3 separate regions of the Homo sapiens genome follow, and all the other regions are linked to region 1. Evidence: fine-mapped expression QTL. A gene starts in region 1. Each other region holds a variant in brackets. All regions are shown on one strand. Distances are between the middles of the regions.

Evidence for each region. PIP is the estimated chance that this variant, and not a neighbour inherited with it, causes the effect.
Region 2: its variant is fine-mapped to the expression of AJAP1 in whole blood (TOPMed, PIP above 0.99).
Region 3: its variant is fine-mapped to the expression of AJAP1 in whole blood (TOPMed, PIP above 0.99).

What each region holds. Positions count from the first base shown.
Region 1 is chr1:4,650,454-4,658,626 of GRCh38, forward strand. AJAP1 (adherens junctions associated protein 1) reads left to right here and starts at 4,156. Exons shown (of 6, transcript NM_018836.4): 1 at 4,156-5,001. The coding sequence starts at 4,973. RefSeq lists an enhancer at 2,147-2,196.
Region 2 is chr1:4,732,433-4,740,605 of GRCh38, forward strand. The region is part of intron 2 of AJAP1 (adherens junctions associated protein 1); the gene reads left to right. Among named protein-coding and RNA genes, the nearest start is that of AJAP1, 82 kb to the left of the region's middle. RefSeq lists an enhancer at 1,447-1,947. The variant C/G (reference allele first, on the strand shown) is at 3,731.
Region 3 is chr1:4,706,565-4,714,737 of GRCh38, forward strand. It overlaps AJAP1 (adherens junctions associated protein 1), which reads left to right. Exons shown (of 6, transcript NM_018836.4): 2 at 5,336-6,135. Among named protein-coding and RNA genes, the nearest start is that of AJAP1, 56 kb to the left of the region's middle. RefSeq lists enhancers at 2,445-3,357, 3,808-4,426, 4,427-5,043. The variant C/T (reference allele first, on the strand shown) is at 4,417.

The DNA.
Region 1 (8,173 bases):
TTTTTCTCCATTCTGGGCCAGATCAAATTCTTAGGTGGCCCTCTTTCCATCTGTACCCGGAGGCTATCACTTGCTCAGAGCAAGCCAAGGAATCCCGTCTTCCTCTCTCTGATGCATGGGTACACTTTCACAGGCAGTTCAGACCTGGCATTTTCTCTTGCCGGCCAGTGCTGGGCTGCAGGATGATTGTCTTGTGAGTCATTTTGTGGGTGGGAGTACAGCTTCTTGGCTCCCACCTCTGCCCCAAGGCTTGGTCTCTGCCTTGCGCTCAGCTATGCGTGTAGTGCAGCTGTGTGCAGCCTCACCCAGGAAACAGCTCAGGTGCCAGGGGGAGGAAACCCCAAATCTCCAGCATATAACCTCCCTGAGAAGGAAAAGCGACTTTGCGTCACTCCCCCTGCCCCCGACAACCATGAGCTTCCTGCAAGTTTTACTGGGAGGGGGGTAGCCAGGAAGATAGGAGAGTCAGGGAAGACACTCCTGTGAATGCTTTCAAGAAACTTATAATAATTTTAATCAGCATTTTCCCTTCCATTTAAAATCACAAACTTAGCTACTTAATCAAATGTCATGGTTAAGACACATTTACCTCCTTGGGAGAAAAATGAACAATGGCAGCTCAATTTGGCTTTGGATGGGTTTTAAAAATAGTCAAGTCTGTGAAGGCCATTAGATAAATGGCCTCAGAGAGCTTCAAAGAGGACCTCCTGCAGGGGCCTGCTGGCTCCTTTGTTGGGAAAATAGGGGAGGGGACTAGGTGAGGAGACCGCAGGGGTTCCCCAGGGTTCCAGGCTGTGGACTTCCCCCAGCGGGGAGAAAGGGCCAGAATTAGCAGGGTGACCGGAAGAACTTTCCACAGCATGAACATCTGAACAGTTCCCTTTTGTATCGCCGAAGCTGGGAGGCGTGTGTGTGTGTGTGTGCGCGCGCACACGCGTGTGTGTGTGTGTGTTGGGTGGGAGTGACATACACACAGCTTCCCAATCCCCAAGGGAAGAAAAATGAACCAGTTAGAAATATGAGAGCCATCAATGTATAGAAAACCAGTTCTAGAAATGCTGAAATGCAAGTTAAGGTTTTGTCGTTTTACAGTCTGTAAAAAAAAAAAAAGACAATGATTTTGTCATCGAAATAATAATAATAAGCTGGGCGCGGTGGTTCAGGCCTACAATCCCAGCACTTTGGGAGGCCAAGGTGGGTGGATAACCTGAGGTCAGGAGTTCGAGACCAGCCTGACCAACATGGTGAAACCTTGTCTCTATTAAAAATACAAAAATTAGCCGGGCGTGGTGGTGCACACCTGTAATCCCAGGTACTCGGGAGGCTGAGACAGGAGGCTGAGACAGGAGAACCTGGGAGGCAGAGGTTGCAGTGAGCTGAGATCATGCCATTGCACTCCAGCCCAGGTGACAGAGTGAGACTCCATCTCAATAATAATAATAATAATAATAATAATAATAATAATAGGTGGATTGCTCTTTTTGGAGAGAGGCAGACCTGAGTTACCCTAGAGAAAAAGGAAATCAGTGTACCCTGGTCCCAAATCCTAATTTTAAGCCTGGGTGAGGGCAGAGGGCATCCTCCGTCCCCATAGACTGAAGAAGCCCTCACTCACCCGGGGCAGCAGCTGTAGTCTTAAGGCTCTGACTTCGCCTGGAGACTTCTGCAGGGCTTGTTCCCATCTCGGTTGTCAGAAAACACTTCCTTCTACTATTTTCTTTGTCCAGAGATTCCCAGGGTACTTGGATAGAATTCAAAGGGTCTTTCAACTCGTATGGGGGAAAACTGGCATCTTTATTTAACCCTAACTGAGACTTGGCATTTCCTTTCATTATCAATGTCGGTGGCAGAGCTCAGTGCCTGTGACCGTCAAACATAGAAAGCACTGGCATTTCCATATCACACTGCCATGGCTGCAGTTACCTCAGGATATTATTGCTGCATATCTGGACTTCAAAAGGAACGTAATTTAGGATCTGTCAATTGCTTACTAAGTGTATTAATAAATAATATATACGGCTATATCAGAAATTTGTTTTTATTACTCTTTTGATAATGCATTTGCATAGAATTGGTTTCCTAATAATCCTGGGCTTTTTCATCTATGCACTTAGAAGCCATTCTGAGAGAGGTCAGCAGGTGTCCACAAGGCTGCCCAAGGGGTTCCTGGAGCCGACACGGTCCGGTCCGGAGCCCCTCCCTGCCCTGCTGGCTCCTAGTGTGCGAAGCCGGCCCCTTCCAGGCCCACTCCGGTTGCAGGAAGGGCCTCCCTGGTGCAGCACCGCCTCCTCACACCGCTAGGTGGCAGCACTGCCGGCGCCTCCTTCCCCGCCGGCCGCCATAGGCCCCGCTGGTTCCAGGACCTCCCTGCCTCCTTCGCCTCTTAATGGGATCCGCTCCCTCACACCCCTCAGGGAGAGGCTCTAGGGGACGATGACCCAGGGGCGGCCCGGCAGGGAAACTGCTGAGTCACCCTGCTGCCTCTCGGGTCCTCTGACCGGCTCACAGATCACCATAGCCACAGTGTGTGTAAGGCCTTCTCATGGAGCCCTGCAAACACCTCCCCGGGGAGGGGCTGTGGGACCCATCTTACAGATGAGGAGACCGAGGGTCGGAGAGGCCACACAACTCGGCCAGGACCCCGAGTTAGCAAGCGCTGGCCCCTGGTCCAGCCACGGCAAGGCTGGCCCTCCTGCCACCACACTTCCCTGCCTCTGGCCCTCTGCCGGGAGTCTTGGTGGGGAAGTCACTGTCTTCATCCTCCTGCCCGGGCAGAGTCCAATCCTGTGCCTGGCTCCTCAAGACCGTTGGCAAAGATCCTGGAGGCCTGGGGGTGAAAGGGCTGCTTGGGGGACTTAAGCCCCAAGCTATGGTTCGCCTGGGAGACTGAGCCCCAAGCCATGGTCCTCCTGGCTCTGCCCTTCCACCCCCTCACTGGCTGCCCCTCCCAGGGAGGCCTCACCTGTGAAGTGCTTCCCGCCCCTCTCACCCCCCACGGCTCTCACATGGCCTGGGGCGATTCCAGAGCTGGCCTGGGTCAAGCACCTGCACAGAGCACAGAGCGAAGGCTCGGCATGGTATATCCCCCGCCCCTTGCACCTTTCCCCAGTGAAGGGTGGCACCAGTGTCCTTTCCAAGGCCCGGATTCTGCACTGCCCTCAGCCTGTGGAGGATTAAAAGCAGGGTTTTGCCGTGGTTTCTCAAGGCGTCAGCGGGTCTGCAGAGGATTCCGCCCCATGTCACTTCTCTCAGTGAAAGGTCCCCGCCCAGCGTCTGTCCTCCTTTAAGTGCCCCCCATTTGTTTTTTGTTGTTGTTTTTGTTTGTTTTTTGCAAATACAGACTAACCAGGTAGGCACAGAGGAGTCCTGGCATGGGAAGGGAGCAGTGAAACGCCGGTGGAGAGTCCGGGAGGCCCAGATTCCCTGGAACTTTCCAGTGACTCCTCCGGAGCAAGGGCCTGGCCAGGCAGCAGCTGCGCTGGGCGATGAGGGACCGTTGGGTAATTGGGGGCATAGGACCGGGCTTCGCTGGGTTCGGGGCAGAAGCGCCGAAGCTCCGACCCGGAACGCGGTGACTTCATCAACGCAGAAGCCCGCGCAGCCGAGCAGAGGAGTCCCTCGTAGGCGACCCTCGGACAGACGCTCCTGCGCGGCCCGCGTGGCTCAGCTCCGCCCCAGGAAACTTTTCGCGCAGCCCCCGCTCCATGCGCCCCCACCCAGTCCTTCTTCGGGGCCGCCCCCTCCCCAAAGTAGCTCTCCGGGTCCACTGGGCGCCCCCGTAACCGGGTCGGAACCTCGAACGGCTTCGCGTGCCATCCGGTTACCCTGGCAACACCATCCGGCGGCGCCCGGCGGTCCAATCCTAGCCTGCGGCCTCTCTCGAGCCTTTCGCAAGGTGGGGACCGGGACGCGACCGGGGATGGGGAAGGGGGCTGCAGGAGGCCCCGCCTGCGCTGTCGCCCCTGCTGGGCACAGCGCCCCCCACCACCCGCGGCGACCCCGGCCCCCGCAAGGTGGGGCGGCGAGCAGGAGCCGGGGCCAGGCCAGGGGCTCGAGCTCCCGTTCGAGGGGCGGGGAAGGCGGGTGACGTGAGCCGGGCCGGGCGGGCGGAGTTGGGACCGGCTCCGGGAGGCGGGGGCGAGCGCGCGGAGAGGCAGACGCGAGGAGGGAGGCGGCTGAGCAGCGCGGGCGGCTCTGCGGCGGGCGCGGTGGGCGCGGGCGGCGGGGCCCCGGGATCCCCGCGCGCCTCCTCCGCGCGGCGCCGCCGCCGCGCGTCCCCACGCCCCGCGCTCCACGGCGCCCTCGCCCCGCGCGCCTCTCGTGCCCGCCTCCTGCCAGTCTCCGGGCCGCGGCCGTCTGCAGAGCGAGCGCTCAGACGGAGCCCCCGGGCAACTTGAGTGGCGCCGATCGGCGGCGGAGCCTCTGGCAGAGCCCCCCGACCCGGCAGCGCGGAGGGGACTCGCGTCCGTCCGCGTCGCGTCACCCCAAACCCTAAGCAGCGCCGCCCCATCGGCGCGGAGCTCCGGCTGGAGGCAAGAGCCGCGCGCCGGGAGACACGCACCGTGAGCGGCAGCGCCGCCGGCCTCCCTCCTCGCCGCCCCGGAGGGCGAAGCCGCGGCTCCCCAGCCCTTTGCTGCGCCGCGACAGCGCCGGAACACGCCCCGCCTCGCTGCCGCCTTCGCTGTGCCGCCGGCGGAGGGGGCCGCGAGCCCCGCGCCCCGGCCGGAGGATGTGCGCCCCCGCGGGCCGCCCAGCCTGAGCCATGCGCCCCAACGGCGGCGGCGCGCCGGCCGGCATGGAGCCCCGCGCGGCCGCGCTCTGACTCGCTGTGCGCCCCGCGGCCGGCGGGCGGCGGGAGGCGGCGGACCGAGAGCCGGAGACCGGCGCCGCGGGACGGAAGCGAGCGGGCGCGGGCGCCGCGCAGATGGCCTGGGCGAGCCAGGTCTGAGGCCCCGCTCCCCGAAACGTGACCATGTGGATTCAACAGCTTTTAGGACTCAGGTGAGCGACCCGGCCGGCGCCGGGTGCGTGTGGGCGCGTGGGTGCCAGGCTGGGCGGAAGCGGCGCTTTCCTCTATGTTGCAAATCAAGGGACCCCTCTTCGCTTCCCGCAAGCGGGCAACGGGGTGCACCGGTAGCCGGAAAGGGGCGCCCGCCCGGAGCCTGGAGCAGCACCGCGGCCCTGGCGGGGAGCGGCCGGGTCTCCAGGGTTCCGCGCGTCCGGGGTCGGGGCAGCGGCGCCCGCCCCAGCAACCCGGGAAGTGGGGCCGGCCAGGCGCGCCCGCAGCTCTAGGAGCCAGCAGCGCAGTGTCCTGGCCGGCTGCCCCGGCGCGCCTCCTCCCCGGGGCCCGGGGCGAGGCGCCGGCCGCTGGGCGCGGCGGGCGCGGGGGCCGGGGCTGCCGGGGAAAGCTAAAGCTCCGGGCTCCCAGCGAGAGCTTCGCAGGCGGAGTTGGAGGAAACCACAGCCAAACAGCCACTCCGCTCCCCCTTCTCCTTTCTCGGGGCCCCGGGGCTGAGCAGGGGCCTCCCAGGCTCCCAGCTGCCGACCCAGCTGTTTGCGGGTGACCTCCGGGCCCGACGGGCGCTCACAGCTGGCGGGCAGCTGGGGCGGGAGAGCTGGGGTTCTTGGGGAGCTCCGGCGGCCACCCCGCTGTAAACACACACGCACATACGCCCGCCGGCGCGCCCGGGGCTTGTCTGTGTCTGGGACTCCAGGGCCAGATGGAAGAGGGGGTTCGAGCCTAGAGCCCGTGGTGGGGGTGTCCAGAAAGACCCTTCTCGGCAAACTTTGCCAGCCCGCCGGGGTTCTCGGGCTTCTCTGGCTTCTGCCTGGGGTGGCCCAGGGCCCACCAGAGCACAGCTGTCGTTTTTGCTGGGCAGGCTGCCTCTGAGCCCTCGCCCTCCTGCCGGGGCATTCACCGAGCTCGTGCATTTGGGTCCCGGGTTGGAACCGCGAGCGGGGAGGACAGAGGTGGAGGCGGAGAGCAGCGTGCGGTTCTCGAGTTTGTCCACTGGGATGCACTGCGCTCCCGCGTTGGGGACGAAAAGGCCAGTAGTTGTTAGCCCGCTGCTTGAGCCGCCCCCACTCAGGGATGAAGCTGCGGGGGGAGTGAGGCGAAGGGAGGGAGGATCTAGTGCGTGTCCTGATTTTGAGAAATCGGAAGGGGACTGGGACGCCAAGTGTTTTCTAGCGACCCTTGATTTATGAGCCGATTCTGCTCCCAGAGGTGAATACTGTGTAACACATCTAGTGAACATTGTCAGATGTTATTATTAGCATCCCTTCTCTCAGTGGCCGATCTTGCTGTGGGCTTCAAAGGTTAATCATGGAGCCGATTGTGTTGGGTGTGGGATATTGGTCGGGCGTGAATCGATAAGTGTGCTTGGGCTAGATAAGGTTTAGGCTTGGACCGTTGTGGGATGTTGGCAAAATGGAGCGAGGACAGCTTTGCAGGAATGACCCTGATCCAGGTGCCCTGGAGGCCTGCCATCCCCTGCTCTGCCCCGGACTGTCCCAGGTCTCAGCAAGACCTTCCAAGGCTTTGTGAATGACCAGACGGGTCCCCACACTGGCCAGTGGCTGGTCTTCAGCTCCGACCTGCTTCCTGAGCTGCCACTTGATTCCTGATGGCAACTTATTTGAACAGACATTTTTTTTTATTGCTAAGTTGCTAGATTAAAAGATGAGTACATTTTGATAAAGGGAGAGAAGAGCAAATATCTTGGAAAGAAGCCTCTCTTTTGATTTGAAATTTACTAAAACAGTTCCTCTCAAGCATCCTCAAGCCGGATCTTGGGATTTTGCTTTAGGAAATAGTTCTGTTGGTTCTTTTGAAGTTTGACCTTTCGTTTTTCCCCCCTCGATGTCAGCACAGGAGATTTTCTGTAAGTGTGCCTTTAAGGACGAGCTGTCACCTATTTGGGATCCTGATGGGAGAGCTCTGTCTTGTTACTGCTGTCTCCTGGCCAGAGAAGGAGGCCTGTACCCAGAGGGTCTGGGTGGTTTTGCATCACAATGGGCACCTGGGGACTCTGAGCCAAAGGGTTGCAAGTTCAAGGTCTGGAAATGCACTTTTTCTTTCAAGACAGCCCTTCACCTTTGCTTGCAAGCCACTCCGCGGCTCCCTAGGTGAGCACTGGGCGTCTTGCTGCCAAGCTTGGAGCCTGGTTAGGACAGGTAGACACTGAGCCTCCAGCTGGGGTGGCAGAAGGCCTGGCTTGCTCCACCATGGGAGAGGTGCAGTGTAACTTGCTGGGCAGGGGGTGGGGGTGGGGGTGGGGTGGGCTTTCTTAGTTCCGGCCCCAGAGACGAAGTCTGGGCTTGGTTATTTACGTCTGTGTTGGAACTGAGCTGTATGTGGAGCTTTTTTTTTTTCTTTTCCCCCCAAGAGGGAGAAGCAGATTGAGACTTATTGAGCAGCTTTTGTGTCTTTTGCGGTGGCATTTAATAGTTGTAGCAGAGCTCCAAAGATACTTTCCATCAGCTGAGAGAGAGGGAGCCACGGAAGGAGACCCAGTGGCTTGACAAGCCCTGCCAGAGCTCACCCGTGGAGGAGGCGCGTATTCAGCAAGCAGCTCAGAGCTCACCCGTGGAGGGGGCGCGTACTCAGCAAGCAGCCCAGAGTTTGGAATTGGCTTCCTGGTTGTGAGTTGCTTCCCAGGCTGCAGACCTCAGATGCTGTGGCTTCCTCAGGGGCTCCGAGCGTCCACCTAATACGTTTGCTGGGTTGCGCTCAGGACTGTGATCCCTAGCAGAGTGCCACGAGCTCATTCCCAGCCCATGTCCCTGCGGCCATCCCATCTGTTCTCCCGCTCCAAGGTTCTGGGGCCCCTTTTGTTTGGGAGGCCCTGGGTGTGTGTGTTGACATAATTCACAGTTCCCCAAGCCCTCTCAGTGCGCGCTGTACCATGTCTGGGCCTCATGGCAGGGATCCATTGGCTTGGCTGTCACCATCCTCGCTGTAGAGTCCCCAGGCAGCTGGGGCTGTGCAGCCCAGCTTTAGCGGATGAAGTCAAACGCGCAGTCCACAAACATTGCGCTCCGGGTGAATCCTGGCTCGCGCCGATTTCCAGCTGCTGCTACTAAATTGATTGCAACTGGAATCTATCTAGTGTCAGCGGCTGTGCTACTCCTCGGGGACAATCATGCTTGACTAAACTGCAAATTTAGGAGG
Region 2 (8,173 bases), 82 kb after region 1:
CTACCCTGCCCTGTGGCTTTGCCCTCCCACCTTGGGCCCCCTCCCTCACATGGCCTGCCAGCTGTCCCTCAGTTCTCTGAGCCCCAGAGGCCCAACTTGGGCTCCTTCGGGGGCCCCCAGAATTGCACTCTGCCTACAGACAGCCTCTCAGTGCTGTAACTTACTGTCAATGAGAGTGTCCCTTGTGCCAGGCCCCACTGTGCCTGTGCAGGCAGGTGAGAGCGGCTTCACAGCAACGCAGGAGTGAGGGAGTGAGGGTGAACCCCTGGCCCTTCCGCGAGACCTGGGGTGAGTCACAGAGTCCAGAGCCTCAGTGGGCTCCTTAATACAATGGAGATGATCTTCCACACCAGGCCTCAGTCAGTTCTCCAGACCAGAGAGGTGAGAGAAGGCTTAGTAAGTTACAGTCTGCTTCGAAAATTGGAGCTGTTTCTTTTCTTTCCCCTGACGCTCTTGGGAGATCCTTGGAGGAACTGCGTCTCCAAATAGACATCTTAGCTTGGACTTCTGGCTATGGCCTCTTGGGGTCCAAATTCCCCACAAATGAATGAAAATAGGATTTCTGGACTCTTCTTTGCCCAGCAGGGCATTTCAGAATCTGTTTGGATTGAGAAAAATTAAGAAGCTGTTAAAATGCTTATTTTTGCCTCAAGAAAATTTTGTGGGATTTCCTGCCCCGCCTCCAACAAAGTGGGCAGCCCCCACCCCAGACCCCCTTCTACTCTTAGAATTAGGGCTGGGAAGGTAGCAGAACCCCCAGGGCTTGGCTCAGGGTTTTCACGTGATTTTTAAAATGCAATGCCGCCTTCAGATGATCTGCATACCCAAGACGTCAGTGTCACGGGGAGCCGTGGGTCTGTGCTTCCCCAAGGCTGGATGGCCCCAAGAGTCATCACTTCCAAAGCCTGGGTTTAGAACCCAACAGAAGCAGGTCACAGGACAGCGAGAAGCTGCCCAACAGAATCTCATTCGCTTGTTCACCTGTTCAACCATTCATTCATTCATTCATTCATTCAGCTGACCAAAGTATCTCGTGTGCCCAGGGCTGTGCTGGGAGTGGGACCCTTCACAGGCAGCCAAATCAACTCAACCCCTGTCCTCACATGGCATGCAGTCCAGTGGGGAGCAAGTCCAATTGCACAGCCGTCTTCCTGTCCTCAGAGGCCCGCCCTCCTTGTTCTGGAAGAATGGGATGTGGAACACAGATCCTGCTCCGAGCGCGGGAAATCCCAGCGGGCCGGCCTTGGGAGGATTCGGTTCATCCTGACCCATCTCTGACCTGGTCCAGGACAGCCCACCCCTCCCCTTGTTCTCCTTGTGGGCAGGGATAGGAGAAGGCCACTGTGACTTGTGCTATTTCCCAGAGACCAGAGAAAATTCTGGCATTGTGAGCTGCCCACACGCCGTCGTCTGTGTCAGAGCCAGAAATAGAACGCAAAGAAGATTCTTGTTCTGATTTCTGTGCTCATAATTCTAGGGCAAGATGCCCTTATGAGATGTGGATCAAAGGAGGTGGGGGCGGGGGGAGCTGAATGGAGCGGTTCACGCGAGGTGTGTGCGTCGCGAGCAGGGCCCTTGCCGGAGCTCCAATTAGCGGCTTTTGTAAGCGATCACGTACCGAGTATTGACTTGGCTCAGCCCAGGAAAAGCGAGAGCGATTTGCAAAAGGCCCCTTCAATCATGACAATTAAAATCCAAATACAGACCTGCCAGGGCCCTGAACCCATGCACTTGTTCTGTGTGGAGGAAGAGAGGCACCCGCTCAGATGCTCCTTCTTAGATGAAAGGAGTGCCTCAGCTGAGCCCCGGAATAGGAAGGGCCTGCCCTACTGAGCCTCCTGCCTCACTATTAACAGCGCTGCGTCCATACTGGGAGCCAGGTTCTGACAGCTGACTTGAATTAAATCTCATAAGGCCCACAGGACACACGTCCTGGGAAGAAGGCATTCCTCTGATCTTAAATCAGCAGAGGCAGAGGCCCCGAGAGGTTAAGTGACTTGCCTGAGGTCACACAGCCTGAAGGGGGTGGAGTCAGGATTCAAACCTAGGTTCCAGGGATGGTGTGTTGACAGCCTGCACTCATCTGACTGTATCTCCTTCAGTCTTCTCCACCATCCCTTGGGCGTATGGTATTTTACAAAGTAGGAAGTGGAGACAGGGATTAAGGAGTCTGTCCAGGTCTGCCCATGAATGAATGTCAGGCCTCGTCACTGCAGGAGCTCGGACTGCACTGGATGGGGCTGGAGTGGCACCTGTGGGCGATGCTGAATATGATGCATGATCTGTCTTTCGGGTGTTCTTGGAAGGAAGGAGAAGGGCAGCACCCAAGAGGGGTCAGTGATGGTGGCAGGGCCAAGGCTCTCACCTTCCCCCGGACAAGGTTTCTAAGGCCCGGGAAGCATCTTCTGCTTCCGAGGCCCGAAACAGTGGCGTTTCCTCTTCCCCGAGCACTCAGCCTCCATCTGGCTTTCTGTCCACCGGCACAGATGGCAATGTTGTTTCTCGACTCCTCCGTCCATCGCCTGCAAGCTGAGCCGCGTGATGGAGCTCAGCCTGCAGCAGCCGTCTTCACCTCAACTTCCCTGGGAGCCGTCCTGCTTTGCTTACACGTATGAGCTCCGCGTGCTTGGCGACCCTTGAGGGTGATAGAGGGCCGGGTAGAGGGGCTTCTCTTCTACACCTGGGTGAGCTCCGCACCAGCGGCAGGAGCACACCCTTACAAAAGCCTGCCACAGCACGCAAGGCATGGTGGGACCAGGCCTCCTGGCTGCTAGAAGAAGACAAGAAAAGCATACTGGGCTGAAGTCACTTCAAAAGCTGGTCACAGCAGGTCTTTTCTTCCGTGACACTCACATAGGGGAGATGGGGAGAGAAGTCATCCCTGGAATTCCAGCCTGGAGCGTGTGGGAGGGAGGGTGCGATGTGCATCAGTGGGGTGAGAACGCCTATTGGGAGAGGGGACCAATTTGGGCCCCAGGTTTGGGACTCTCCTGGTTGAATGTCTCGCCCATCCAATTTTGCAGGAAAGGAGCCTGGTATGCAGGCTCAGCACCCACTGCACCGGGTGGGCAGCTTTATTCTGCCTGTGGCACTGGCCTAAGAGCTCAGAAAGGTTTAAAAAGATAAGACAGCCCACTGAATAGCCAGGGACATTCAGGAGGCTGCACACGGAGGTCTCTCCTCCCAGGCTGCCTGCTGTACAGTGGGCACCTCTGCCTGCTGTGTGAGGTGTGAGGTGAGCTCCTCCCTGCTCCTCTGCTCCCTGAAGCCCTACCCTGGCTTGACTCATGCAGTGCAGCCATCTGAGCCTCAGTAAGCCCCTCGACAAGCTGCCGCCTCCTCCGGGGTCCCATCTTCCTGAAAATGGGGCACAGCCCCTGTTACCCCTGCCTCTGGCCTCGGAGCTGGCTCCCCTTCCCTGTGTCACTGCAGCTCAGCCCTGGGGCCCGCCTCCTGAGGGTCTCCACGGTGATCTTCAGCCTTTGCCATTGCTGGTCAGATTGAGGGGAGCAGAGCTTAGAGGAAGAGGGTTGGCGCTGAGGTTCCTTAAGGCCCCAGATCAGCTCCCTACTTGCTACAGTGGCAAGCTGCCTTACCTGCGCCTTACTTTCCTCATTTGGAAAACAGGGGTAAGAAAAATGCCAACCTCCCAGGGTTGTCAGGAGAAAAAGTTAATGTTTGTAAAGGGCTTGGGATGTGCCCTGGCACATGGTAAAGGCTGCAGAGGTGT[C/G]CCTGAGACCGTTGACAGAAATAGTTTTCACATAGTTGCCCCATCAGTTCTCCTAAACCACAGCTCTGATGTTGCCCCTCGCCTGCTCAAGAACTGTCATTGGCTCCCCACTGCCTACCCCAAGAAAGTTCAAGCTCTCTCACCTCTTTTCCAGGCTGTGACCGCCTTCTCCCTTGGCCTCCTGTTGCCCGCTGCGCTGTGCGCAGCCCTCCCTTTCCCACGGTCTTGGCTCTGCCAGTCACATCTTACCCCCTCCCAGCTCACTCTGCTCCAAAAACACCAGCCACAAGTACTTCCCCTCCCACACATCTTCCTCTAATCCTCTGTGGCCAGCGATAATCTCTTCCTTCCTCAAATGTTCATGCTGCCTTCCTGGTTGTATTTATATGTATAAATAACTGCAAAATAGGATTAAAAGTGAGGCCCTGACTCCCCAGTGAACCTGCAAGCTCCTTCAGGCCCGAGCCTTGATGTGCTTTTTGATTCTTTTTATCCTCTGTATAGCACACGGCAGAGCAATTTGCACACGTAGGGAGTTCAATATGTATTTATTGAATAAGCAAATGAAAATTAAAGAATAAAGAAAAGGCCTTGTAGCTCAAACCCCTAGTTATCCCAGTGTATCTGTGGAGAACGTGCGGGGGCCGCTGGTAAACTTGGAGTGCACAGCTTGGGTGGGCTGGTTGGAAAGAGGGCTTCTACATGGACCTGCAGCCCTAGGACTCAGACATGGGTCTCCAGGGCTGACTACTGGGGGTGGATTGAGGCCTGAGAATTCTTCCCTGCGGGGGCTTATTTTCATGCCCAGGTCAAGCAAGGGCCCCGCTTAATCCAGCCATCATCTAGAGAAAAATGGTTGAATGAACTAGAGCAACTCTCTGAATGTACTGGAGTTGGCACACTTGCATTGGGCAAAGTGGGAATTATTACGCCTGTTTGCAGCATCGCGAGCAAAGTGGGATGCTGTGTGAGAGCGTCCTTTCCCTGCCTGCAGTTTACTATGGGGCTGTGGATGGGCACCCCTGGGATGGGAAGGTTCTCACCAAACCCAGGCTGGGAGGAGGCTGGGGCAGAGCAGAGAGTCGGGAAAAAGCATGAGCCTGAGCCTGAGCCTGAGCCTGCCCCCTGGCTCTGCCGAGTCCCTGGACAAGCCCCCGTCACCACCCACCCCTCGGCCCCTCACCTCTCTCAGGGAAATGCCATAGCACTGATTACCCGGCAAGGATGGGGACCTGTGGGGTGAGATTTTTTTTTCTGGGGCTCGTGTTGGATTTCCTGGTGCAGCAACAGGACGCAGTGCAAGTGCAAGCAGAGACGGGAGCCCCCCCGAGACGGAAGCCCCCCGAGATCTGCGAGCTCATCCTTTCCTTAGGCCTCTGCATAGGCAGGGCCAGGGTGCCCAGGTCCCAGACTCCTGAGGCCCTTGTTGTGGGTTTTAAAGAAATTCTAGGCCAAGTGCAGTGGTTCACAGTTATAATCCCAGCACTTTAGGAGGCCTAGGTGGGAGAATCACTTTAGCCCAGGAATCAAGACTAGCCTGGGCAACAGAGTGAGACCCCGTTTTCTACAAAAATAATTATTTAAAATATTAGCTGGATGTAGTGGTGCATGCACCTGTGGTCCCAGCTACTCGAGAGGCTGAGGCAGGTGGATCGCTTGAGCCCAGAAGATTGAGGCTGCCGTGAACCATGATTGCACTACTGCACTCCAGCCTGGGCGACAGAGCGAGACCCTCTTTCAAAAAAACCAAAACCAAAACCAAAACCAAAACCAGCTGCCTTTTGCACCCATGGTTCCATGTGGATTTTGAAGAAGCCCAGAACTCAGTTTCACAAGAGCTGGTTAAACTCCAAAGGTGTGCAAAGCACCTGCCTGGGGGAAACAGCTTCCCAGGCTTGATTTTACCTGGTACTGAGTACAAATTTTACTCATTCCAAATGTTACACTTCTTGTCTTGCTAATGTTTCAGAAGAGTAATGGGACCCAAAGCCCAGGCGTCCTTCAAGCATGCAGCCCCCAGCCACATGGCAGGCCACGGCCATGCATGATGAGGCATGATCAACACAACAGGGGCCCTGCTCTCATGGGGCTAGCAGGCCCACAAGGGTGATTGTCTGGAAATTCACTCAAATAAATGCGTAATTGTCAACCATGTTGAGCAGACTGAGTCAATACACAAGATAGCATAAGAGTCTCTGCAAGAAGAATGTGGATTGACTGGGGAGTTAGCATGCGTGAGGGGCCTCTCTCTGAACAAGGGGAGGGTGATTAGGGGGTAGCTGGTCTGGAGCTAAGAGAGAGCACTCTAGGCGGGAGGGAAGCCAGCCCTAGGGCAGGAGTGGAGGTTGTTGGCGAGAGCCACTGGCAGGCAGATTTGGTGGGAAGGATTAGCACAGAGCAGAAGGGAAGAGTAAGGAGAGGGGGTGGGAGCCAGGGCAGGCCCCCCAGGCCATGGCAGCACCGCGGGGGTGTGCAGAGACTAGGAGAAGCCGCTGGAGGGTTTGAGCTGGGAAGCAGGAAGATCTGAGCTCTGTTCTGGAAGGGTTCCCTGGGCTGCTGGATGTAGGAGAGGCTGTGGGAAGCGGGGAGCCCTGCTAGGGATTCCACTCCAGGGGGAAATGAAAGTGCCTAGGACATGCATGGACAAAATGTGGGCGGAGGCCACCACTTGACTTGGCTCTTCCATGAAGGGAGGCCCCATAGGAGCAGGAGAACTCAGAGGAGAGAACCGCTGGAAGACCTGGGGCCCTGGCAGCAGGGCAAGGTGACCACTTAGGAGGAGAAGGAGGTGGGAAGGGCGTGGGGGCACATCTGGGGGTTTGGACACCAAGTTCATGTTGGGAATTGAGATGTGGGGGAGGCAGGGCCACTGCTTCTCCTCTCTCCCGGGAGATTGCATTTTCCATGGGCACCGGAATTCTTGGTGAGACTCCTGGTACCTGGAGCTAAATGACGCAGAAAACTGGTGGATGTCCCACTCAAACACATGTGGGAGAGTCTTCTCGTCCTGGGGGTGCCCTTCCACAACCCCACAGTAAACTGCAGGCGGGGAAAGACGATCTCACACACAGCATCCCACTTTGCTCACAATGCTGCAAACCTGCGTAATAATTCCCACTTTGCCCAGTGCAAGTATCGGCAGGCTTTGGGGTCTGCCGGCCTTGGAAAGTGGGTCCGTCCAAGCACAGACATCTCCCGTCTGTCGGCAGCAATGGTCATGCGACAGGCCTGGGAAGCCCACTGTTGGCAATGCATTTGGAATGCAGTCCACCCCCTACCCTCGTGTTAACTCCAGGTCTCCTTGCCACCTTCTGAGCTTTCTGGGGAAATAAGTCAAAAAGTTAATTTGATTTTGAACAGATTCTTAAATCAGTTCCCAAGAGGCAGAGATCAATTTGCATTTCATCTTTTCTTAGTCATCTTGGCTGGTATTTCACACGAGCTGTTGGTATTTTTCGTGTTCTCTCACTGCACAGAAATGACCCTTGGAGCATATTTTTAAAAGGAGAAAAAACCATCTGAAGAGGGGGAGGAGGCAGCAGGTTCTGTTTTTGGTTGTTGTTTTTTTTTCTGTTTTCTTTTGTACTTGTGATTTCTGTTCTTCACCACACAGCATGGTTGTGGCGGCCCTCACTTCAACGTTGAATTGTGTTTGGTTCTTCTGCATCCCTCCTAAAGTCTGAGGTTCCTTCTTGTGCCTTTGGCATCAGAGTGTCTGATAAGGGGCAGAGCCCACCCCAGGCCTTACCCATCATCTACTGAGAGGGCTTCCGGGATGGCTTCCCACCATGGTGGCCACTCCCCGTCCAGCTCACGACACCTCTCATCTTGGAAGGAGAAAGGACCTGACGGGGTGTATCTAAAAGAATTTAAAGCGGAGTCTCAGAGAGATGTGCGCATACCCATGTTCACAGCAGCGTTATTTACAATATTCGAAGTCACACCTCCCAGGTGTCCATCTATGGATGAGCAGATAAACAAAATGTGGTCCATCCACACAATGAAATATCCCTCAGCCTTAAAACCAAAGGAAATTACAGCATATGATACAATGTGGCTGAACCTTGAGGACATTCTGCTAAGCGAAATAAACCGGCCACAAAAGGACAAACTCTGTCAGATTCTACTCATATGAGGTCCCTGGAGTCACCAAATGCATAGAGACAGAAAGTCAAATGGTGGGTGCCAGGGCCTGGGGGAGGGGGATGGGGAGTGAGTGTTGATGGGGACAGAGTTTCAGTTTTGGGAAAATGAAAAAGTTCTGGAGTTGGAGGGTGGTGGTGATTTCCTGACAATGTAAATGTGCTTAATGCTGCCAAACTGTACGCTTAAAAAGTGGCTGGCCGGGCACGGTGGCTCACGCCTGTCATCCCAGCACTTTGGGAGGCCGAGGCGGGCAGATCACAAGGTCAGGAGATCGAGACCATCCTGGCTAACATGGTG
Region 3 (8,173 bases), 56 kb after region 1:
TCCCACCCTGAAGATTCTGGGCTGTTCCCCGGTGGAACAATTCCAGGGCCTGGCCTGCTTCTCACTGCACCAGTGCTCCCACAAGGCAGACACCAGCTGCTCCCAGGAGGCTCACGCCGCACACTCCCGGCTCGGGGAAAGGTGCAACTTTAAGTGGAAGAGATGTCTTTGGCCCCTTAATTGACAGTGATTTTCTTCTGTGAAGAAAATATACAGAAGGTAGTGAATTGAATCTCAATTCACCAAATCTTATTAAACTGTTCTTCGGGAAAAAAGATTTCAATAAAAATTTAAAAGGAAGAGAAGCAAGAAAGCCACAAACTAGAAAATAAAGTGAGACGGAGCAGTTGTTCCCCATTTGGAAGCAGCTGGGGAGCAGGGGGTGGTGGCAAGGAGTTTATTCTTTCTTTGAAAATCATGGGCTCGAGGCTGCTGAGAGGGAGCTGTCCCTGCCTCTTCTCAAAGGGTGTGGATGTGGTCCTCAGGTGCTCAGGCAGGGACCCTGTCTCACGTTCAGGGTGTCCCAGTGAGGACTGGGTGGATGAACCCAAAGTCTCCATGGCTTCCTCCTGCCCATGTGCCTGCAGCTCTGGGGGCCGCTCTGCCTTCCACCCATCCGCCAGGGCCAGGATTAGGGTGCCACGCCATGCACTCCACATTGTCCCCACAACCCTTGCACACACCCCATTCTCTAGCATGTTCCTTTTGATTTGTATTGGGATATACATTGCACAAAACTCACCTATTACAAATGTACAGTTTAGTGGGTTTTGTATAGGCATAGAGTTGTGCAGCTACCCCCACACACAATTCCAGAATATTTCGTCACCCCATAAAGAAACCCCCTACCCCATTACCCCTTCCCCAAGCCTTGGGCAATTGCTCATCTTTCTGTCTCTGTGGATTTGGTCACTCTGTGCATTTCCTATAAACGGAACCGGGCACCGTGTAGCCTTGAGTGCCTGGCTTCTTTCCCTGCTCAGGGTTTTCAAGGTGCTTCCACATTGTAGCATAGATCAAGTAATCCTGCCTTCCTTTTAAAGGCTGAACGATACTCCATTGTAACATTATGCCAGATCCCCTTTATCCATTCCTCAGCTGACGGGCACGTGAGCTGAGTCAGCTTTGACTGTTGTGAGTTGTGAGTGTGGCCCTGGGCCTCCCAGTGCAGGTTTTCATGTGGACAGATGTCTGTGCCTAAGAGAGGGGCAGCAGGGTCCCTGGAACTCTGTCTTTAGGGTTCCAAGGAATTGCCAAACTGTTTTGCCCAGAGGCATTCTGGTTTTCATTCCCACCAACAGCATACTAGGTCTCTCATCTCCTCGTGTCCTCGCCAGCACTTCATGTTCTCTGTCTTTCTGCTTGTAGCTCTCTCTGTGGGTGTGATGTGGGCGGTACGTTTTTTTTTTGTTTTTTTTTTTTGAGACGCAGTCTCACTCCATCTCCAGCCTGGAGTGCAGTGGCATGATCTCGGCTCACTGCAACCTCCGCCTCCTGGGTTCAAGCGATTCTCCTGCCTCAGCCTCCCGAGTAGCTGGGACTACAGGTGTACGCCACCACACCTGGCTAATTTTTGTATTTTTAGTAGAGACAGGGTTTCACCATGTTGTGCAGGATGGTCTCGATCCCTTGACCTCGTGATCCTCCCACCTCGGCCTCCCAAAGTGCTGGGATTACAGGCGTGAGCCACCATGTCTGGCCGGGCGGTATGTTCTTAAGGGGCCTGTGGATGCTTGAGTTTCAGGGGAGCTGGTGCCACTTCTGCCTGCCCCACAGCCTCGCCTCCTGATGGTTGGTGCTGTGGTCGGCAGCCATGCCACAGGGCCTGCCTCCAGAGGAGGTGTGGGGTCGCCTGCCATCTTGGTGCATGTCTGACAGTGCCATGGATGCCCTATGGGGTGAGGCCCTCCCGAAATCTGTTCATCATGAAATGAGAGGTGCTCAGGGCCAAGCCCCAGGCTGAGCAGGATCAGTGAGAAGAGTATTCCCAGGCTCTGCCTCATCTCAGAGCCGCCCAAGGGATGAGGACAGAGATTGTTTGTACTGCTCACTGGTCCTTGGAGATAGAGCCAAGTCCTCCTGCTGCAGAGATGCAGCCTCTCACCAAGGGGTCCCCAAGAGTCTCAGGACCAGGTCCGGGCAGCACACCAAGCTCAGCCGTCTTGGTGGCAATGCAGAGCCTGGGGCCCTTGGCCTTGCACAGAAATGAGCAGTGGCCCCTACACGTCTTCCTATGGGAGGGGCTTTCCCCCTGCCCCCCACATTTCTTGGCTGCTGGGAGTGGGCTGGGGCCTCTGTCCTGGTTGCCCACCTGCCCTCTTTTTTTTCCTCTCTGAACAAATCAATCACTTTAAAAAGGAAGAAACCAGACTTGAAGAGGAAAAACAAATCGACCTCTCCCTGCCACTGTTGCAATTGGTTGGTTTTTCTGCATAACAGCTGGGTGTCTTAGAAATGAGGGGGTTTCTATAGTAACCAATTACAGCCATGATTGGTGAAAAATCACAGAAATATCCTGTGTGTGAAGTTATGCCAGCGAGGCAGGCACGGGCTTAGGTGCTATGGTTTTAATTTCCTGGGGCAATATTTCTCTAAGTACTGATGGCAGGCAGGTTTGCTTGTCATGGCTTTTGATTCAGCCTGCCTGGTGGGGGCTGGTGGGGGCTGGTGGGGCCTGGTGGGGGCCGGTGGGGCCTGATGGGGGCCGGTGGGGCCTGGTGGAGTGTAGTGGGGCCTGGTGAAGCCTGGTGGGGTCTAATCAGGGCCTGGTGGAGTATAGTGGGGACTGTTGGAGTCTGGTGCAGTCTGGTAAGGCCTGGTGAGCTTGGTGGAGTGTGGTGGGGCCTGGTGAGGCCTGGTGAGGTCTGGTGAGGCCTGGAAGACCATGGCAGAGTCTGGTGAGGCCTGGTGGAGCCTGAAGGGGCTTGGTGGGGCCTGGTGAGACCCTGCACCTGCTCAGAGCAGCATCTCATCTTCCTGGGGCTAGACTCCCACCCAGCTCTGCAGGTCATGGGAGAATTAGAGATTCTAAACCAGCTCCCATCCTCACTGGGTCACCTGCAGCCACAGAGGAGCTACCTTAGTGTGTATATGGGGGAATTTCACCCTAACCTAAATTCGTCCTTGTGGTGACAGTGGCCCTGGTCCCTGCCCCGAGCTTGGCTGCTAGTGCAGAGAAATTGCACACCAGCAGAAACACCGTGCTGAGGATTAGCATAATGTGGAGGTCCTCATTTCTGCAGCAAAGCACTTCTATTCTGATTGAAAAACTGAAGCCTTATTGTTTGGGGATTAGTCCTTTTTGGTAATTAGCACTCATTAGCAAGAGTTTCTCTCTCACCATCCTGATGACTGGGGGGCCATCTGTTCCCCAGATATCTGGGAGAGTCAGCACCAGACACAAGGGTCTCAGTACTGAACAGAGGGCGTGCCCCCAGGGATGCGTTCACACACAGCTACAACTAAACTCTCCTACACAGACACACACAGACACACTCACACATAGAGTCTCTCACACAGACACTCACAGATACACTCGCATGCTCACACAGGGACACACAGATACAGTTGCACACACAAATACACACACAGATACTCTCACACAGACACACTCACACAGGAACGCACAGATACACTCATACACACTGACACACACGAGCATAGATGCACTCACACACTTCTATGCTGACACACATGGACACAGTCACACAACAGTACACTCTCACACACGCACCAAATACACACAGACACCCTGGCCCTCACTCACGCACAGTCTCTCACACTCGTGGACACACCCCCAGATGCATCTTTACACTCATGTATGCTGGCTCACTCTCACACTGGCACACTCACACAGCTTGACCCACACGCACACACTCACACCCAGTCACACACGTACACACTCACATACGTGTGCTTGCCTACACGCACACACTCACACACTTGCGTGCACGCATTACAATGACACACACAGCTTCCTTCCTTTGTGAAGTCACTCACCGCCTTATAAAGAAAAACTCTACCCAACCTGCTTTCCAGGCCTGGCTTTGGGCGGCGTCAGGCTGGCGCTTGGCACCTGAACACCCTCGCGCCCCCCACCCGCTTCAGTCATTACAGTTTTGGGATTCATTTTAACTTTCAGACGTGAGGCTGGTGACGAGAACTGACTTTGAATGACACCTATAATCAGTCTTCAATTATCTGTGCTGGTGGAAGAGGGAGCGTGGGCCTGGCTCCTCTGAGCCCTTCCACGTGGCTCTCTGCCGCGCCCTGGTTTTCATGTGACACCAGAGAGTCCACTGGTCCAGAGGCGACCCCAGACCTGGTGACAAAGCCGCTCCATGTGAACTGGGGAGGGGCCGCCCCGCCAGCCCTGACTTCTCCCCTGCAGCCCCGCTGCGTGGAGAGGCAGCCCCG[C/T]CCTCCTCAGGGTTGCGCAGGATTTGCCCTTTCTGCAGCCCTCCGGGGAGCTGAGGAGGTGGATAACAGGGTTTCAAAGGGCACCGGCACTGCAGATAAACAGGGGGAGCGGAAATGTCAACAGAACAGACACTTCGCGTCAATAAACTTTAGGTTTATCCGGAGCAGATCTCATTTCCCTGAGTACGATCCAGAGGAGGCCAGAAGTAAGAAGCCTTCCCATGCAGAGCATTTAAAGCGATGCCTGTTTACGATATGCATGCCGGGCTCTGGGTGAGGGGCAGCGGGAGCGGCTGGTGTTTGCAAAGTGCAAGTGCCTGGCAGGTGTAGGTGCTGGGAAGCGCCTGCGCTCACGCTGCGAGGTTTCAAGCTTGAAACCTCCGCTCCTCCTAGACCTGGGGAGAGGCGCTTCCCCAGTGGGCGGGGGGTGGCCTGGGCTATGTAGAGGAAAGCGCCTGGCCCTGGGGTCCCAGGTGGAGGCCGGTGTCCGCTGCTGCCATCCTCTCACTTACGTCCTCTCGTCGTGTGATGGGCAAAAGGAAGGAGGGACTCACAGGTCTTTTCAGGTTATCTTGTCGAGGCTGCCCTGAAAGGCTGGGGGTTTCTGAGGCTCGGTTTTCGCTCGCGTGAAATGGACTATTCGGCGACCGGCCGGCTCTGTGCCTGGCAGGCGCCTCAGCCCCGCGGTGCCGGGAAGCAGCTCCCCGCACCCTCGCAGCGCGCGCTGTTCTTGCACGTGAGTGAGCCTTTGAAGGAAAGGAAGGAAGGGTTTCGGATTCCCTTTTGAAGTTAGGAGGAGCTCTTTCCAGAAGAAGAGAGCGTCCTTGTCACAGCGCGGGGTGGAGAGAGAGGGCCCCGGGGCCCAGTCCCCCTCCTGGGCTTCCACTGACCGCTCTTCTCTCCTTTCCCCCCCGCACAGCTCCATGTCCATCCGCTGGCCGGGCCGCCCCCTCGGAAGCCATGCCTGGATACTGATAGCCATGTTTCAGCTCGCCGTGGACCTGCCCGCCTGTGAGGCCCTGGGCCCGGGGCCGGAGTTCTGGCTCCTGCCGCGGTCGCCGCCCCGGCCGCCCCGGCTGTGGAGTTTTAGGAGTGGACAGCCAGCGCGGGTCCCGGCCCCGGTGTGGAGCCCCCGGCCGCCCCGAGTGGAGCGGATCCACGGGCAGATGCAGATGCCTCGAGCCAGACGGGCCCACAGGCCCCGGGACCAGGCGGCCGCCCTCGTGCCCAAGGCAGGACTGGCCAAGCCCCCAGCTGCTGCCAAATCCAGCCCTTCCCTCGCCTCTTCGTCCTCGTCCTCGTCCTCCGCGGTGGCCGGTGGGGCCCCGGAGCAGCAGGCCCTCCTGAGGAGGGGCAAGAGGCACCTGCAGGGGGACGGTCTCAGCAGCTTCGACTCCAGAGGCAGCCGGCCCACCACAGAGACTGAGTTCATCGCCTGGGGGCCCACGGGGGACGAGGAGGCCCTGGAGTCCAACACATTTCCGGGCGTTTACGGCCCCACCACGGTCTCCATCCTACAAACACGGAAGACAACTGTGGCCGCCACCACCACCACCACCACCACGGCCACCCCCATGACGCTGCAGACTAAGGGGTTCACCGAGTCCTTGGATCCCCGGAGAAGGATCCCAGGTGGGGTTAGCACAACGGAGCCTTCCACCAGTCCCAGCAACAACGGGGAAGTCACCCAGCCCCCAAGGATTCTGGGGGAGGCCTCAGGTACAGCCATCTCTCTTCTGGTTTGGGTTTGCTTGGGGTTGAGGGCTGGGAGCGTGACTCGGGAGAGATGCTTAGATGTCCCTGGGTGATGCTATGTGTGGAGGCTCCAGGAGATGCAGGCGTGATGTGTCCATGAGCTTGCACATGCCTGTAGACTGGCAAATACAGGCTGTGCCTTAGAGGAAGGGGGCGTGAGAAGGGAGAGTTTCCCTTTTTAGTATGTACCTAGAAGTGGGCGCTGCACCCCTTGTGCCTCTGTTAGGGACCAGCTGAATCCACCAGGTGCTGCAGCCCTGTTACAGACCGGTGGAATCCACCACACACAGCCACGCCTTCCAGAATCAGAGAATTTTGTCTCTGGGGCCGGCCCTTGAGCAAGATGCTTGCCCGTCTCGTGATACAATTAAGGATCCCCCCGCCCCAGAGTCTTCAAAAGCCTTCAAGGGTATGGGACCCATGGACGGGGGCATGGACGGGGGCAGGGTGCCTGCCAACTTGACCTCGGTAGAGGATTAGGAATGGCCTTAAATAGCAAGAAAGGCCGAGGCTGGGTAAAAGGAAGAACTTCCTGCGGTGTTAACAGAACCTTCGCAGACAGTGATTCAGGTGGCACCTTTCGGCTCCCTGGGGATGTGTCAGGAGGGTGTTTGGAGGACGGAGATCAGAACAAAGGGCTTTGGTTCTTCTGCTGCTGTTATCCTAGCTGCCTGTGGACACACACAGTTCACTGGCTTTGGAATATCTCCTTCTGTGCAGTTTTGTTGTTTTTTATTTTCCTCCTATACGCTGTCCTCCATTTGCTTTGAAAGGAGTAGCCCTTGGAAATCTCCCAAGCCAGGGCTTGTCCCTGAACTGGTAGCCTGCACTGATGTCACCAGGCTTCACAGCAGGCCTGCGGGGAGAGCGCAGAGCCCTGGGCACCCCGTCACCCTCACCTCCCTCCAGTTTTCTCTGCCTCTGTTAACAGGCACAGCCCGATGTGCCAGGTTGGCTCAGAAGTTCACAACCTAGATCTGTGCATACACATTCTAGACAAACAGCAACATTTGCTAACTTTAAAATCGGATGCAGATTTTAGGGCGTCAGTACAAAGTGGGCGGGGGCGCCCTGTGGCCTCCTCACAGCTTGCTTTCCACAACCTCCAGCTTGTGGGCTCGGTAGGCCCCACCCAGGCCTCTGCAGAATCAAGGGGAGGGAAGAGAACTGCTCTTCAGAGCTCATGTGCAGGCGGCCGGCATGGCATCCAGGCCCTCTGCGTCCTCACTAGACTGCGTCCTGGCCCTGGTTCCTCCTCATCTTGGGCAGGCAGGCACCGGGCAGTCCTTGGACAGGTTTTCATGGGGTGGGTGGCTTTTGTCCTTCAGCCGGTGACCTACTTTCTTCCTTCACCTGGACAAGAGAACCTGCGGTTTTTTTTCTGAGCTCCTCTTCCCTAGAGAGCAATGTCTCTATGGAAGCACAGCCTGGGCTCCCTGCGCATGCTGAGGGCCATGCCCAGAGATGGAGGCTGTGGGCTTGGGAGAGGCTCTGGAGGAAGAGGCTCCGGAGGAAGAGACTCTGGAGGTCCTGCATCGGCTTCCTCCCATGCAGCCTCTTTTGGGAATCCACGGACATGCGGGGTCTGCAGCTCATCCTGCACTGTCAGGCGCCTGCTAGCAGTTTACAGAGTGTTCATTTTTACCTCAGTAAACTCAGCAGCCATCATCATAGTAGGATTTCTTGCTACTCTCCCTTACTGTCACCTCCTCTGTATACGTCACTTACTATATAGACATGGATGAGGAAACAAGTTCCCATTTATTCCAAATTACATTTGTTATTACTAAAGTTAAACACCCGGGACAGCGTTGTAGGCTTAGCAAATTAATTCACAGTGCATTGGATGTTGCTAATCCATCTCGACAGATGCTTATCTTGGAAGCGATTTATGGTTCTTCATAATATAATCTGGTGCTAGATTAATTTGTTTAGCAAAACAAATCTAAAAAGAGGAAAATATGTGTGTTTGTTTCTAATGCAGAGAAATGTTAATTCTGGA